2 separate regions of the Homo sapiens genome follow, and region 1 is linked to region 2. Evidence: fine-mapped expression QTL. A gene starts in region 2. The other region holds a variant in brackets. All regions are shown on one strand. Distances are between the middles of the regions. Region 1 overlaps LINC02888 (long intergenic non-protein coding RNA 2888). Region 2 holds the start of LINC02889 (long intergenic non-protein coding RNA 2889).

Evidence for each region. PIP is the estimated chance that this variant, and not a neighbour inherited with it, causes the effect.
Region 1: its variant is fine-mapped to the expression of LINC02889 in testis (GTEx, PIP 0.95).

What each region holds. Positions count from the first base shown.
Region 1 is chr7:17,442,054-17,450,475 of GRCh38, forward strand. The region is part of intron 1 of LINC02888 (long intergenic non-protein coding RNA 2888); the gene reads left to right. The region is part of intron 4 of LOC105375172 (a long non-coding RNA gene); the gene reads right to left. Among named protein-coding and RNA genes, the nearest start is that of LINC02888, 71 kb to the left of the region's middle. The variant C/T (reference allele first, on the strand shown) is at 4,769.
Region 2 is chr7:17,555,332-17,563,753 of GRCh38, forward strand. LINC02889 (long intergenic non-protein coding RNA 2889) reads right to left here and starts at 3,578. Exons shown (of 4, transcript NR_110013.1): 1 at 3,421-3,578.

The DNA of each region.
Region 1 (8,422 bases), 110 kb before region 2:
TTGATAAAATAGGCTTAGGCATGGTTCAGACATGTTAAGATATTTTAAGAAATGTGGTTTAAAACATGCAACTTTTATTTTGCCTTCTATTTAATGCTACCTAGGGTTTCATGCTTAACTGCCCCTTCCTAGAGCTATGCTATTTCATAGAAGCCCTCCACTTGAGAATACATCTGATCAAAACCTCCAAACACTTCAGGTTTTCTCTAATTTTAATTTTTTTTTTTTTTTTTTTTTTTGGAGATGGAGTCTTGCTCCGTCACCCAGGCTGGAGTGCAGTGGCTTGATCTCTGCTCACTGCAAGCTTCACCTACTGGGCTCATGCCATTCTCCTGCCTCAGCCTCCCAAGTAGCTGGGACTACAGGCACCCGCCACCATGCCCGGCTAAGTTTTTTGTATTTTTAGTAGAGACAGAGTTTCACCTTGTTAGCCAGGATGGTCTCAATCTCCTGACCTCGTGATCCACCCACCTCAGCCTCCCAAAGTGCTGGGATTACAGGCATGAGCCACTGCGCCCAGCCCCTGTTATCTGTTTCTTCAAAGAAACATTCAACAGCATCATGAATGCTCTTAAATTTTTTCAGTGTATCAGGAAAACAAGGGAAAGCTTATTACAATATGATGCTAAAAATTCAGATTGTAATGTTGACAAAAAAAAGCCTACCATGACCTACAGTAGGCATGAGAAAAGACAAGGAACCAAAAAATCACTTTCTTCTCTTACACTAATCCTTGCAAACAAGTTAACACAGAAACAGCTTTAAGTTTAACAAAAGTAAATGACAAAACAAGCAATTGTAAGGTGTGTGTGTATATATAGGTATATATATCTTGCAATTGCCTGTGTCTATACCTATCTATATATATACATACCTATTCCCCTACATATATAGCCATATATATATTATATATATATATGTATTTTTTTTAACATATTTGGGATTTCAAAAGTTTGGGAGAGTATATATTTTATATATACACACACATACAGAAAATATATATATATAGAATATAATATATTCTAATCCCAAATATTTAAATGCTTTGCCTATCTTGCATGAGCAAAGGGATAAAAATGCCTTCTCTTTGGAGTCCTAGAGACCATGTCTCCAACTTTCATGTCCTGATGGGATGATGTCCTTCCACTCCTGTAAGAACCCTAGCTCTGGCACAACCTCAGCTGTGTATGCTTCCCTCCGTTTCTTTGAAATTTTGGCTTTCACACAGATCCCTGTAAACTTCAAAGGAAAAGGACAATCTTCCTACTTAACCAACTATTTGTCCATCTGTCCATCCTATGCCTGCCTTCTTTCTCCTCTTTGTTTTCCATCAACATGACCATACATTGAACACCTACAATATGCCAAGCGTTGCACTAGGTGTTTACAACATGCAGTCTGTTTTCCATGCTATCATCTTAAATACTCTTATTTAGCCCTCTCTCCTGAGGAGTACTGCCTTTAGTTTCCATGTCATTAGAAGCCTTTCTCTACCTCATCAAGCTCATCATACCCCAGAGTAAGATGGAGGTGAAAGAGTGTGGCATAGTAGAAAGAGCATGAACTCTGAGAGAATTATCCTTAGGCTTAAGCCTTGGCTTCTCTATTTCCTACCCATGTGTCCTTGGATGAGTTATTACTCTCTTTCAGCCTCAGTTTTCTCATCTACTATCTATCTGAGGGTAACAATACTTCAGAGCTGCTAGAGGAATTCAATGAAATAACATGTAAATTTCCTTAAAATATGCCCACAGCATGGGAAGCATTTAATGAATAGTAGCAATTCTAATATCTAAGTGATAGCTGCCAATTCATTAGATATGGGCATGTTCAGAATGGTCCATTGACTTATACTTGCCCCATTATGTATATATGAGGACAATAAAAAGTTGCCCAGTTGATTTTTTATTGCCCTCTTATATGTACATGCATTATGTAGACAGCCTGCTCAATGGGTATTTATTATAATAATGAAGTACACAGTCTAATGTTTCTCTTCATTTGTATAAGCTTTAAGAAAGCCCTGTTTTTTCAGCTTTTTTGGTACATAAATTCATGGCAGTTTGGTTATAATCCCCATCGTTTTGTTTGATTTTCCCTGCATTTCTTAAATTAAGAAATATCCATATATTGAGATTAGCTGTAACTAACTCATGGTGTTCCTTCCTTTTGCCATTTCCTCCCTTTCCATCTTCTTGTAATTTAAACTTTCCACATCCTAGAGTGAGAAATATGAGTCCCCAGTTTTTCCACAGCTTCAATAAGCAGGCTGGAAAATGTTTTAATGGACTGCTAGAACCAATGACTATTAGTGGCTTTCCCCCATCTTCCTGAAGGTTTTCCTGTCCAACCCTTCTCTCCCTTTCATGTCCTCCACATCTTATCAGTTGTAATGAATTGAACCCGTAGTAGCAGCGCTAGAAGAGCTGTTTCTTAGTTTAAATGGTAGTCATACTATTTTGCAACTAAAATTAATTTTATACTCTTTTAATGAATTCTTTATTTTCCTGTTCTGTTTATTTTGAAATGAAAACTCCTAAAATATTTTTCTCTGTACACCTAGTTGTACCCAGAGGAGACAAGAGATCTAGAAATATCCTTAATGCGTACCTGAATATTCTTTCTATCCCAATATGTACCCAGTTTTTAAAACATTTTTCCCATATGTAAGTGTTATTCAAAAGTTTTCCTAGAAAAGTCATATTCTGGGCATGCTATGTTTTTGCTGAAGTGTCTAGGCTTTGTTTTTGTCCTGTCGGGGATATGACTTGTGAGTTTTCCTTTATCTGTGAGAGAAAGTTGACCTTTTGTGCTAATTCCATTTCCTGGTGAGTCAGCCTTCTTTCTTTTGGGCTTGCCTATTGCTCAGTGCCAACTCTTACATTCCACTAATTCAGCACCTGTCCCTTCTTAAACAGGTTGTTCAAACCCCCATGCTAGCCCCATCTTTGACCCAGTGACTTCTTTGGGTGGCCAGTTATTTAATTTTTCAAAGCCTCTGTTTTGACATGTGAAAAAAAATAAAAATAACATTATCCTAGCAGGGCATATTAAATAATGCAAATGAGGGTAGCTACCAATGATAAATTTTACTAGGAAGGAGGTAATGCTGAAATAATGAGAATTTATCTTATCATAAAAATTTAACTTGTGGGCAGCTCCAAATAAGTAGCAATTTCCCTTTTCTTACTATTTTCCTCCAGGAATTTGGGCTGAAATTATTCAGGATCCATTTTCCTTCACGTATTTCCATTTCAAAAATGGTAGAATGGAAAGGAATAGAAGTAAATTTGAAGGATTTTCAAAGCTTACTTAGGAGTTTGGCATGGAGAGGGGAAAGCTGTCACAGCTATTGATGAATTTATTCAGTAACTACTGAGTGCCTACTCAGTGCTGCATCACTGTTTCTATATGGAAAGGAACTATCCCTCTGGGACAGTGTTTCCTTAGTGGGGTTAGCAGTCCAAGGAGCAAAGCATATGTGTGTTTCTATAAGCAATGGAAAAAGGATACTCCAAGAATCCTATATATGTAGCTGTTTGCTGATTCCAAGAGGGCAGCTAAGACTTTTTGGAAATAGGAATAGGAATCAACCTAGCACAATGCTTTGCATGTTGTAGGTGTTCAATATGTGGTCATATTGAGGGAAAAAAAGGAGAAAGAAGACAGGCATAGGATGGACAGATGGACAGATGATTAGTTAAGTAGGAAGATTCTCCCTTAAAGATATGTCTCTACTCTGCCAATCTTTGTTAAAAAAAGAAAAAAAGAAAAGAAGATATTTAAAAGTAGAGAGTTTATATGAAGTCTAATTAGAAGGTCTTGTTACACTCTGAAAGAGTGCCAGAATATCAGAATATGAACCACAAGATCATTATTTTCTTTTTCTTAACTTTTTTTTTTTCGTTTTTGTTTTTCTTTTTCTTTTTCTTTTTTTTTTGAGATGGAGTCTTGCATTGTTGCCCAGGCTGGAGTGCAGTGGTGCAATCTTGGCTCACTGCAACCTCCACCTCCCAGGTTCAAGAAATTCTCCTGCCTCAGCCTCCCTAGTAGCTTGGATTACAGGTGCAACCACCATGCCCAGTTAATTTTTGTATTCTTAGTAGAGATAAGGTTTCACCATGGTGGCCAGGCTGGTCTTGAACTCCTGACCTTAGGCGATCTGCCTACCTTGGCCTCCCAGAGTGCTGAGACTGAATTTTATTGAAAGCCGTTTCTGCATTTATTGAGGTAATCATGTGTTTTTCATCTTTAGTTCTGTTTATGTGATGAATTACATTTATTGATTTGCATATGTTAAACCAACTTTGCATCCCAGAGATGAAGCCTACTTGACTGTTGTGGATTAGCTTTTAGGTATGCTGCTGGATTCGGCTTGCACGTATTTTGTTGAGAATGTTTGCATCAATGTTCAGCAAGGATATTGGCCTGATGTTTTTTTTTGTTGTGTCTCTGCCAAGTTTTGGTATCAAGATAATGCTGGCTTCATAGAATGAGTGGGGGAGGAGTCCTCGCCCTGCAACCGACCCAGTTTTTTTGGAATAGTTTCTGTAGGAATGGTATGAACTCTTCTTTGTACATCTGGTAGAATTTGGCTGTGAATCCATCAGGCTCTGGGCTTTTGTTTTTTGTTTTTTTTTTTTTTTTTTTGGTTGGTTGGTAGGCTATTTATTATTGATTCAATTTTGGAGCTCATTATTGGTCTGTTCAGGAAACCAATTTCTTCCTGGCTCAGTCTTGGGAGGGTGTATATGTCCAGGAATCTGTC[C/T]ATCTCTTCTAGGTTTTCTAGTTTGTGTGTGGAGAGGTCTCTATAGTAGTTTCTGATGGTTGTTTTCATTTCTGTGGGGTCAGTGATATCTCTTTCATCATTTCTAATTGTCTTAATTTTTTTATTAGTCTATTTAGTGGCCTATCTACTTTAATTTTTTTTTAAAAAACAACTCCTAGATTTGTTGATTTTTTAAATGGTTTGTCTCTGAATTTCCTTCAGTTCAGCTCTGATTTTTGTTATTTCTTGTCTTCTGCTAGCTTTGGGGTTGACTTATCCTTGCTTCTTTAATTCTTTCCATTTAATTTAGGTTGTTAGTTTGAGATCTTTCTAACTTCTTGATGTGGGCATTTAGTGCTATGAATTTCCCTCTCCACACTTTCTTAGCTGTGTCCCAGAGATTCTGGTATGTTGTATCTTTATTTTCATGATATTCAAAGAACTTCTTGATTTCTGCCTTAATTTCATTATTTACCCAAAAGTCATTCAGAAGCATATTGTTTAATTTTCATGTAATTGCATGGTTTTGAGCGATTTTCATAGTCTTGACTTCTATTTTTATTGTACTGTTGTCCGAGAGAGTGTTTGGTATGATTTTGATTCTTTTTACATTTGCCGAGGATTGTTTTATGTTTAATTATGTGGCCAATTTTAGAGTATGTGTCATGTGGTGATGAGAGAGTGTATATTCTGTTACTTTCCAGTGGAGAGTTCTTTAAAGGTCTATCAGATCCATTGGTACAATGTTGAGTTTAGGTTCTAAATATCTATTAATTTTATGCCTTGATGATCTAATATTGTCAGTGGAATGTTAGACTCCCACAGAATAATAGTGGGAGACTTTATGTCTCTTTGTATAGTAGGTCTCTAAGAACTTGCTTTATGAATCTGGGTGCTCCTGTTTGGTGCATATATATTTAGGACAACTATGTCTCTTAGTAGAATTGAACCCTTTACCATTATATACTTTGTCTTTATCTTTGTTAGTTTGAAATCTGTTTTGTCTGAAATTAGAATTGTAACCCCTGCTTTTTGCCGTTTTCCATTTGCTTGGTATGTTTTCCTCCATCCCCTTTATTTTGAGCTTATGAGTGTCATTACACATGAGATGGGTCTCTTGAAGACAGCATACCATTGGATCTTGCTTTTTTATCCAGCTTGCCACTCTGTGCCTCTTAAATTGAGCATTTAACCCACTTACATTCAAGGCCAGTATTGATAAGTGTGGATTTGATCCTGTCTTTGTGCTGTTAATTGGTTATTATGGTGGCTTGTTTGCTTTACAGTGACACTGGTCTGTGTGTCTTTGTATGAGCTGGTAGCAGTCTTTCCTTTCTATATTTAGTGTTATTTTCAAGATCTCTTGTAAGGCAGGTCTGGTGGTAATGAATTCCCCCAACATTTGCTTATCTGGAAAGGATCTTATTTCTTCACTGAGGAAGCTTAGTTTGGCTGGATATGAAATTCTTGAAGATGATGTTTTTCTTTAAGAATGTTGAGTATAGGCCCCCACTCTCTTCTGGGTTGTAGGGTTTTAGCTGAGAGTTGCACTGTCTGATGGGGTTCCCTTTGTAGGTGACCTGCCCTTTCTCTCTAGCTGCCTTTAACATTCTTTTATTTTGACCTTGGAAAATCTGACAATTATGTGTTTTGGGCATGATCTTCTTGTGGAGAATCTTGCAGGAGTTCTATTTCCTGATTTTGACTGTTTGCCTCTCTAGAAGGTTGGGGAAGTTTTCATAGATGATATCCTAAGATATGCTTTTCAACTTGTTTGCTTTCTCCCCATCCCTTATAGGGATGCCAGTGATTCATAGATTTGGCCTCTTTACATAATCCCATACTTCTCAGAGGTTTTGTTTATTCTTTTTCTTTTTTATTTATTTTTGTCTGACTGCTTCGTTTCAGAGAACCAGTCTTCAAGTTCTGAGATTCATTCCCCAGCTTGGTTTATTCTGCTGTTAATACTTGTGATTGCACTGTGAAAGTCTTGTATTGTGTTTTTCAGCTCTGTCAGACTTGTTAGGTTCTTTTTTATACTTGCTATTTCATTCTTTAGCTCCTGGAAAGAAGTCTATGGATTATACTCAACCTACACTCCAGTTAAAGGAACATCTACACACAGAGGTGAGAAAGAATGAATACAAAAACTTTGGTAACTCAAATGGTTAGAGTGTCATATGTTCTCCAAATGACTGCATCAGTTCTCCAACAAGAGTTCTTAACCTGGTTGAGATGACAGAAATATCATTCAGAATATGGATAAGAACATCATTGAGATTCAGGAGGGAAGCAAACTCCAATCCAAGGAGAATGAGAATCAAAATAAAGCAATACAGGAGAAGCTTTCAGTTGACCCAGGGTGCTCTGTCCAGGGAGTTGCCAAGTTGCCACGGGCTTGATAGCTCTGGTGGGGGATGGCTAGAGGCCCAGGCCTGAAAGACCTGGAGATATGGGATATGGGAACAAGCACCCATGTAGCAGTCTGGCCACTTTTCTGTAGGTCTGCTTCAGTATGCTTGGGGCCCCCTCCAATCCCTAGTCACATCAGATTTTCCAGTACCTGGAGGTATCACCAATGAAGGCTGTGAAGCAGCAAAATGGCAATCTGGCCCTCTCTCTGGGAGCTCTGACCCAGAGAGGTATGTGCCTGCTGCTGGCCCAAAGGCACCTGTAGGAGGTGGCTGGAGACCCCAGCTGGGAGATCCTGCCTAGTGAGGAGGAACAGGATCAGGGACCTGCTTTAAAAAGACGTCTGGCCACATTTTGGTAGAGCAGATATGCTTTGCTGGGCATTTGCTTCAGCCCCTGGTTGCCTAGACACTCCAAAGCCCGATGGCTGGAATGGCTAAGTCACCCAAACAGCAATGATGGTGGCCCACCCCCTCTGTGAGCTCCATCCCTGGGAAGTTACTAATCTCTGTTGGCCAGAGAACACCTTTAGGGGAGAGGTGGCTGGAGGCACCCCAGTTGGGAGGTCCTGTCCAGTGAAAAGGAATGAGATTGGGGACCTGCTTATAGTAGTAGTCTGGCCATGTTTGGTACAGCAGTTGTGCTGTGTTGGGGGATCCCTTCTGCCCGATTGGCCTGGATTCTGCAAAGCCTGAAGGCTGGAACAGCTAATGTACCTGAACAGTAAAGATGGAGGCCTGCCTGTCCCCCTGGGAGCTCTTCCTTAGGGAGTTACAATGCTGGTACCAGTGGCTGGCCAGAATTCTAAGCTGTGGGTCTTATCTTGTGAGGTAGCATGGACTTGGGGCCTGCAGGCTGTTGCTGCTCAGCCCCCTGAATTCAGCCTCTTTTCTATGGGTATGTACAGGGTTCTAACCTCCCACTTTGCTGGAGCTGCAGCTACTTTTGCTGGAAAGCCCAAGTATCTAAGGCTCCAGTGATTCCACGCATGTCTGAGTGGTTGCTCTGCCAAGACTCCATGTAGCTCTGTCAGACTGAAGTCCCTGGTAGACTGCGTTCACAAGGATATCTCCTGTCCCAAGGGTTGCAAAGATCTGTCAAAGAAGCATGGATTCCTTAGGTGGGGGAGGGTCCCCTGTCTCCGTGTTTCTCCCAGATGGGCTTTGTCCTGTCTTGGTTTTCTTTGTTCTCCATGAGTCAAGTTGTTTCCTTGATTACTCCCTTTGTGAATACTAGGATGTT
Region 2 (8,422 bases):
TGCCAAAGGAAGCATTTAGCAAAAGAAAAACAGGCATTTATTGATCTCCTTCCAAGAGTCTGCCCATCTAACCCTGTTTCTCGGTTTTATGAACACTCACGCAGCCTTGGCAAAAAGAAAAGGTGATGCTCAAGAGTACCTTGCTGCATACTTCCCAACTTTAATTCAGGTGCCACGGGCCTTAGATAGAAATCTCCCAGCTCAGAGCAGAACAATGATTCTACTCAAACCACTTGTCCTCTCACCAAGAGTACAGGCCTACTCTACCTCATGCACAAAGGATGGGCTCTGTTTTGCTACAGGTGGTTCTGGTAAATAGGATCAAAATGACTGCTTTATTATCAATCAAACCACATAAAGTTGGGTCAGGGCAGAAAGGACTGGACACCAGTTCTGGATATAACTGACTCATTTAGCAGTATGCCTCTAAAATCCTTTCCCAGGCAACCCAACCCACCCACCTTGGTTCATAAACTGCCTGTGCCATATCTGGCCTCTGGTTTCCCCTCACAAATACTATTTTCCAAACTTACATCTGTTTATTTCTTCTTTACCGCTGCCATGTCCCTTAAATATTTTTCTCATGTCTAAAAACTCCAGAAAAAAATCATTAGCTAAAATTAACTAAGCATATCAATGGTTTTGAATATAGGCAATGTTTGTATTCCTGTGTTATAAATCGGGAATCTCAGGTTCAGGTAATTTAAGTAGCCAAAGGTCATACAAGTGAAGGTCAGTGCTCAAATATGAATTTGGGGCTCTTATTTGAACCCCTCTTACTTTCCATTAGGCCATGCTGCTGCTAGTAGCGGTAAAGGAAGGACACAAGGCATAACAGTCTATGAGGCCAAAGGCAGTAAGAAACAGTGTGGAATTGTGTGTGGCACATAGTAGGTACTCGTGCTGAAAACAACATTGAGTTACTCAATGAATATACAATTGATTCCCAGATTCCATGGGCTTCAAACTCATTTCTACAATCCATGATTTCCTATTTCTTCTCCATGCTAAGCAGAGCCTGCTGCCATATGGTAACTTTGCCAGTAACAGTCTAGCTGCTTCTAACCAGGGCCTGCTTTCCCTTGGCTTTAGCACTCAAAGGTCAACTTGACCTTGCAGGGAAAGTGAGCAGGGAGCAAGCACCTCTGAGGACACGGCAGACAGCTGCAGTGTGGCTTTGACATTTACAAGAAATGAAAGCATCTCTATTTAGAAAACTTTTTTAAAGATACAGAAAAAGTAAGTCTAAAAATAGCCAAGATCTAAAGTTCCCCAAATAATTAATATCATGTCCCCATAACCTAAAGGATTCTCTTGATTTCAGTGGAAAAAAACTCTGCTTTTAAGTTTGAGAGACCTTTTTTCTTGCAGAAAACTGGGCAACATATTGTCTGATTGGGTAACTTCTTTGAAGCCTGCCTTTATTAGGAGTTAGCTGCTAGTCTGCTCTTCCTTGGATCTCAAATATTTTGGTTAAAAAAAGCAGTATTTTTAGTATTGCTGATTTATAGTTATCAAAAGGCTATGATTGCAGATCATGCACAGTGCATCCATCTGGGCAATTATCTTTTGGTTCTAATGGTTAGAACTGTGGCAGTTTCTGAGGTGTTAGAGTTCAGGTTCAATTCAAAGCATCAATGATGCTCTTCATACTAGACCAGGATCTGCCTCTGTAAGACAGACTCAATTCCCTTCTCTTCTTTTTTTGCAACAACCACAGCCATTACCCCAGCCTCAAATTCATATCCATTGGTTCAGAAGCCCTAAGGAAGGGCATTGATTTCAGAGAGGAAGCCCAACATGTGCAGGATTTTTTGCCCTGGATCCAGTGATATCTTTGAGAATCAGAAACACTTATTCTAATGTATTTTAATTTACTTTTCAAATGGAGCATTTAAACAAAAACTGTTTATTGGGTTCAAATTCAGAGCCAAGTTGTGTGTCGAGAGAGTCTTAATTTTTCATAACAGGACATGTTTGGCTCTAATGTGTGGGTTATGAGTCAATATATCAAATTTGACTAAAGTATTTGCTCTAAGTAGGGAGCAAGCCATTTAGCATTACAAATCCTGAACTTTTTGCAGGAAGGAGGGAAATAACTTTGATTTCTAAGCTCTCTTATTAAGATGAATCAAAGTTGATGAATAAACTTTCTGGATTGCTTAATACCTTCCAGATATCAGTATCAAGGCCTTGGCAAGGCAGGTGAAAATATTTCCATGAGCAAGAAGCAATTGAGAAGGACTTCCTCTGTGGGATAAATTCTTGGTAATTCCTGTGGGAAATTTTCCTTTATCCTAACATCTTTTTTTTTTTTTTTGCCTTGCCCAATTCTCAGTGTTTTTAAATACACAAAATACGGCTTTCTACTAAAAACTGGTAAATGAAGTTGGAAAAATACAAACACACACACACACACACACACACACACACACACACACACACGGTAGCCCTTTTATTGCAGCCATGTACGTAGCTTCGCTGAAGAGTTGACAAGATATATTGTGCAGCCACAGAGAGACACCACATCTTCCTTCCTCCCAGCACAACTTGTACAGTGATTAAATGTGATTAAAGTCTCAGGAACTTGGACACAGTCATATCTATTTTGGTACCACTGTCTTGATCCATCCCTACAGCCAGAAGGGAATCACCCTCTTTGTGTAAATGTTTGCTTTGTTGGAAATTCTCAAGCAGAAATTAATAGTATACATGCTTCAGGAGGAGTAGTAAATCAAGCATGATAAACAACTCCTAGGCAGTGTTTAGACTGGCCAAAAGTCATCTTAAGAATCGTGCACAATGATAGAATACCACGTTTGGCATCTATACACCAGAACTATCTATAAACAAAAAGCAAAATGGAGATCTGTCAATTAACCAACTAGTCTGATTAATGGGATCTGTCAGCATAGGTGGATAATAAATGACTAGAAAAGTAGCAAGTCTCCACTCATTCTATGTGGTGTAGACACAGTTAAATGAATCATGAATGTTTAGTGCTCTTTATAGCAGTTAGCGAACACACTTGGAACTTGTCTCGAAATTAGTTTTGATCTCTTGTTTGAAGTCAGATGCCAATATTCTAGACCCCTATGACATCATCTATTACAGACTCCTGGTTATCGAAGAGTTGAAACTAGTCAGATAGAATTGGCATGAAAAGAATTTTCAACAGAAAACAATCATGTTCAAGGAAGCCAAGTCTAGGATTTCAGGAGCTCAAAGTTTCAAATATTTTTATAAAAACATACATACATACACACACATACATACATTCATGTGGAGAGAGAAAATGAAAAGCAAGAAGACCTTTTCTTCCTTAGTCCAAATCCAATTTAATAATTATCCAGGGTATTCTCAGTAAAAACCAGGTATTTATGCCTCTATATGTATGTCACCAAAATGGAGCCAGCTTACCTGAAGGTCCTCTGAGGCTGTCACTTTCCTCTAGTGCTGTCCCATAAACCTGAAGGATATACAATAACAAAGGGGACAATTCCGTGGGACGAAAATCTTATTTTAAATAACTTCTCTATACTGACTTCAAGCCAAATGAAAAAACTACAGCTTTTTTGGAATTTTATTCCATTTCTGTTGTCTGATTCATAAGTGTTGTTAAATATTTACCAGGAACCTGCCAACAGTTTCTCAACATTAGTTAATCATAGGTAATGCTATTCCATTAACAACTCAATAAACTTCTTTAAAGTTGTACAAGGTAAATTTCAGTACCTTAACACTGCTAACCCATCCTTGTAGAATAAATATTTGCTTTGAGTTTCTCTATGCCAAGATTTATGGGATCAAGTAATCTAAATCTCCTTTTGTAAATAAGGTGTGCCCTCAAGAGGATGAGAGTGCAGACTCTACAGTCTTGTCTGCCTTCTCTCCACAGGTCCTTGAATAAAGCGTTCCATGTCTCCAGATAAACAGACTTGGGGCACTTCTGACCAGTATCCCAGCAGCAGAGGCTTTGGGAAATATTTTCAAGACGGTTCAAGCCTCCCTTCCACAGATTCTCTCACATCTGCCAGCCTGAAGTGGGCTGTGTTGGTTCATGTCTACCAGGACACTAAATGGCTGAAGGCCATTTTTTCTATTCTAATTATTGTTGCTTCTTTGTAACAATTTTTATAAAAGTCCAGCCTAATTTCTTTCCCAGCACACATGTATCTTCAGACACACATCTAAATCCAGGCTTTCATGATTAATCCTACTCTGAGTCAGCTGGGATAGAGCTCTGATGATGGGATATCCTACATGGTCATTAACTGCTGTTTGCACAAACACATCACTCAACGTGACTTCCACTGGATCTACCTTGTATGCAGAGTAGAAAGCTGCTTGTATGGAGTGACTTCTCTGTTGCCTGACCAACCACATGCAAAAATAACCTTTCCACTCACTGATACTGAATTCTACCAAAGAAGACAAGCCATCCAATCAACAACTCTCATAGTAAAGCACATGGCAAACATTATAACTGTATTACTGTATTATAAAACTGTATTATTAAAGTCTACTCTTACAGAATACTCGAGGAAATTAAAAAATGACAAATTCTCATTTATGTACACACCACTTATATCAGGTTCTTCTGGAGAATATATTCTGTTTGACGGAAGAGGAAGGAAGAGAGGATAAATTATGTTTATTGGAGAACTACCTAACCCAGACTTTGTACTAGGTGCTTTTTGAAAATTATCTCTTTAATTTCTGCAACCACAATAAGCCACAGATAACCCTGTCTTTGCTTCAGAGATGATTGTGCCCAGTCTCATAGGAGTTAAGCAATTTTTCCCAAGTCCTATAGCTGGTAAATAATCAGTTTAAGATTCAAGTAAATCATTTTATCAAAGCAACATTGAGGCAAGAAAGAAGAGTATGATATACAATTTTTAAAAGCCCAGACACCCACACATTTCCTGTAAGGAAAAAAATGTATTGATGTGTATGATAAAAATTAGGCCCTCAGCTCCTTGAAAAAGAATTGTTTGAGCCCCTGTAAATCTTTACCCAGTTAGTGTTCAAATAAATATTCCTGTAAAGATATCTTCAGGGTGAGAAAAGCCATAAACAAACTCCATTGTCATTTCCAGCATTTAAATCAGGACTAATCACAAGGAGCCAGTGTTAGCCCAATCCCCCTCACCTAGTTCCCCTCACTCTTTGCCAATACGCAGTTTTTAATCTGTTTCAGGAAGGAGTCCGAGGCGGTTTGGAAATACAAATTAACCTGAAACTACTTCCTAAGGCATTACCAGAAATCACGTTTTAGATGTCAAGATGACTTGCATTGTTCTAAACTTCCAGGCTGTGCCAATGGCCACAAAGGTAAATGGGGCATTGGGACAACCATGTGAAGGACTAAGTTGCAACATGAAGCAAGCACACTCTTCCGCATGAGTCACCTGAAAATGAAAAGAGAAGAATAGCTGGAAAAGATGATACTGTCTGACAACAGCATTTCAAATAAGACACAAAAAACTTGTCTGCATTTGCTTTCAGGTCATGAAATACCACATGAACTGAATGTTTGAGAACCCATTAGCTATGGATCACCCTGATTCAACAACCCAATTAATCATATTCTCAGGTCTATGGCATAATCAGTGTTTCTCAACCTACACTGCGTAATAAAATTACCTGAGGAAATTTTTGGCTTTTTGAGTGTTTTTATTTAAAAAGAAAAAAAAAATCAATGCCTGGACCCCAATACCAAAAATTTGGATTCATTGCTATAGGGTAGAGGCCAGGCACTAGTATTTTTAAAAAAGCTTTCCAGGTGATTCTAATGTGAGTCATGGTTGAGCACCACTGTTAGTTGTATGAAGTGGATTTAGAAATCTTATCCCTTAGACCCTTAGGGTTGCCAGAGCTGTCATGGCTATGAAACCTGCAAGAATTTGGGCAAGTTACTGGTCCCTGAGACTGTTTCCAAATCTCCAAAGTGAAAGCCAGAACACCTTTTAGGCACATGCTTTATCATGGAGGCCTGACGATCATGGTTTCAAAATAAATATCTGTGAACCTAGATACTTTATTTTCCTTCAATCATTTTTGATTCATATGTCTTTAGAATGTACACTGAAATGTAAATTGTATGTGAATATATCTTCCACATGTAACAGCATTACTTCTTTTGACTATGTAACTTAAATTATGTTTTCAGGATGCCAAAACAATTGGCTCAAAAGTAGGAAAATATTGTTACCTAATATTTGCTGCGTCTCTATATCCCTAAGTTAGAAAAACAGCACGTTTTGATTTTATGTTTGTTGATTTTATTCTATTTAAAAAAGACCAGCTACCCCATATTTAGAGGCTCCTACTTCATATCAAGACTCAAGTTGCAAGTCTTGGAAACAAAATAAAACCCCAAACTTAGTGCTTTAGACTTTTTATACATCCTACCCTATGTTACTGAGAAATTTGTTGTTGTGAGAAGGAAGACTTTAACTTGCATATGTACATATACATGCAAGTATGCTAGCATGATTCCTGAAACAAAGTGTTTACTAGATATTTATTAAGATTGTTTTTAAATATGAACTTCAACATCTTGATTGAATGATGAAACATGGACATATGAATCAAACTTTGGTATCTGCTCACTATCAAATGCTATAGAATCAAGAAAGTGAGAGCAACAATATTTCCTGTGCAACACACTACACACCTTAAATTTGGAAATATCTTTTGCTTTCATGAAAGTTTTATGATAATTCCTATTTACAAATTTTGAGGGGTGGTTTATAATTCTACTGTATTCTGTATCTGTAATCAAATCTTTGACAAATCAGTTGAATTTTCCCCCACAAACATAAAAGACACAGAATCAATAAATAAAAATACTAAGATACTTCACACAGCATCTTTTGACATTTGTAAAGAATTTTAGAGTACAAAGTAATTCTCTTTTAGTGAATGCATGGATTATACTATTATATAGAAGAGCACTACTTAGATCATAGTAGAGAAGGATATATCTACGACCCTATGAGACTGATGCTGCTAGTTGTTGCCAATATTTACCCTCACACTTCATTCCTTGGGGTAGCAATGTGCCCTGGCACAGGTGATAGAGTATGACTAGACTGACCAAGTCATAATTTTGTTCCTTATTTCCCAGTCTCCCTTGCAGCCAGGTATAGTTATGTGGTCCAGTCCTGGCTATGAGAAGTACAGGGAAGTCTCCTGGTAGGCTTCTGTCATTGTGCTTTCCTGACAAAAGGAGATAGGCACAAGAGGCATAGCCCATTCCCTCCAGCTTCCTGCTTAATGAGGCATCCTGTAATTAACTGAAGTTTCAGAAGCTATCTTGTGACCATAGGCAGCAATCCTAAGGATAAAAGACAACAAAACAAGGACAATTGGACTAAAAGATAAAAAGATCCTGGATCTTTGATGGAAGCATCAGGGAGCTAAATCAATGCCAGCAAACACCTACTCTGGACTTCCTATTATATGAGAAAAGTAAACTACTTAGGAGAAAATCATAATCCCCATGTCTGAAAGAGATTTTAAAGCATGTATTTTCTCACAAATCACCACTAAAGAACTTACTCATGTAACTAAATACAACCTGTACCCCAATAACTTATGGAAATATAGAATAAATAAATTTCATATGGGATCAAAGAAGACCCTGTAGAGCCAAGACAATCCTAAGCAAAAAGAATAAAGCTGGAGGCATCACGCTACCTGACTTCAAACTATACTACAAGGCTACAGTAACCAAAGCAGCATGGTACTGGTACCAAAACAGACCCATAGACCAACGGAACAGAACAGACCCCAGAAATAACACCACACATCTACAACTATCTCATCTTTGACAAACCTGACAAAAGCAATGCGGAAAGGCTCTTCTACTCAATAAATGGTACTGGGAAAACAGGCTAGCCATATGCAGAAAACAGAAACTGGACCCTTTCCTTACACCTTATGCAAAAATTAACTCAAGATGGATTAAAGACAAGTGTAAAACCCCAAACCATAAAAACCCTAGAAGAAAACCTAGGCAATACCATTCAGGACATAGGCATGGGGAAAGACTTCATCTCTAAAATACTAAAAGCAATTGTAAAGAAAGCTGAAATTGACAAATGGGATCTAATTAAACCAAAGAGCTTCTTCTGCACAGCGAAACAAACTATCATCAGAGTGAACAGGAAACCTACAGAATGGGAGAAAATGTTTGCAATCTACTCATCAGACAAAAATCCAGAATTTACAAGGAACTTAAACAAATTTACAAGAAAAAAGCAAACAACCTCATCAAAAAGTGGGCAAAGGATATGAAGACACTTCTCAAAAGACGACATTTACGTGGCCAACAAACATGAAAAAAAAGCTCAACACCACCAATCATTAGAGAAATGCAAATCAGAAACCACAATGCGATACCATCTCATGC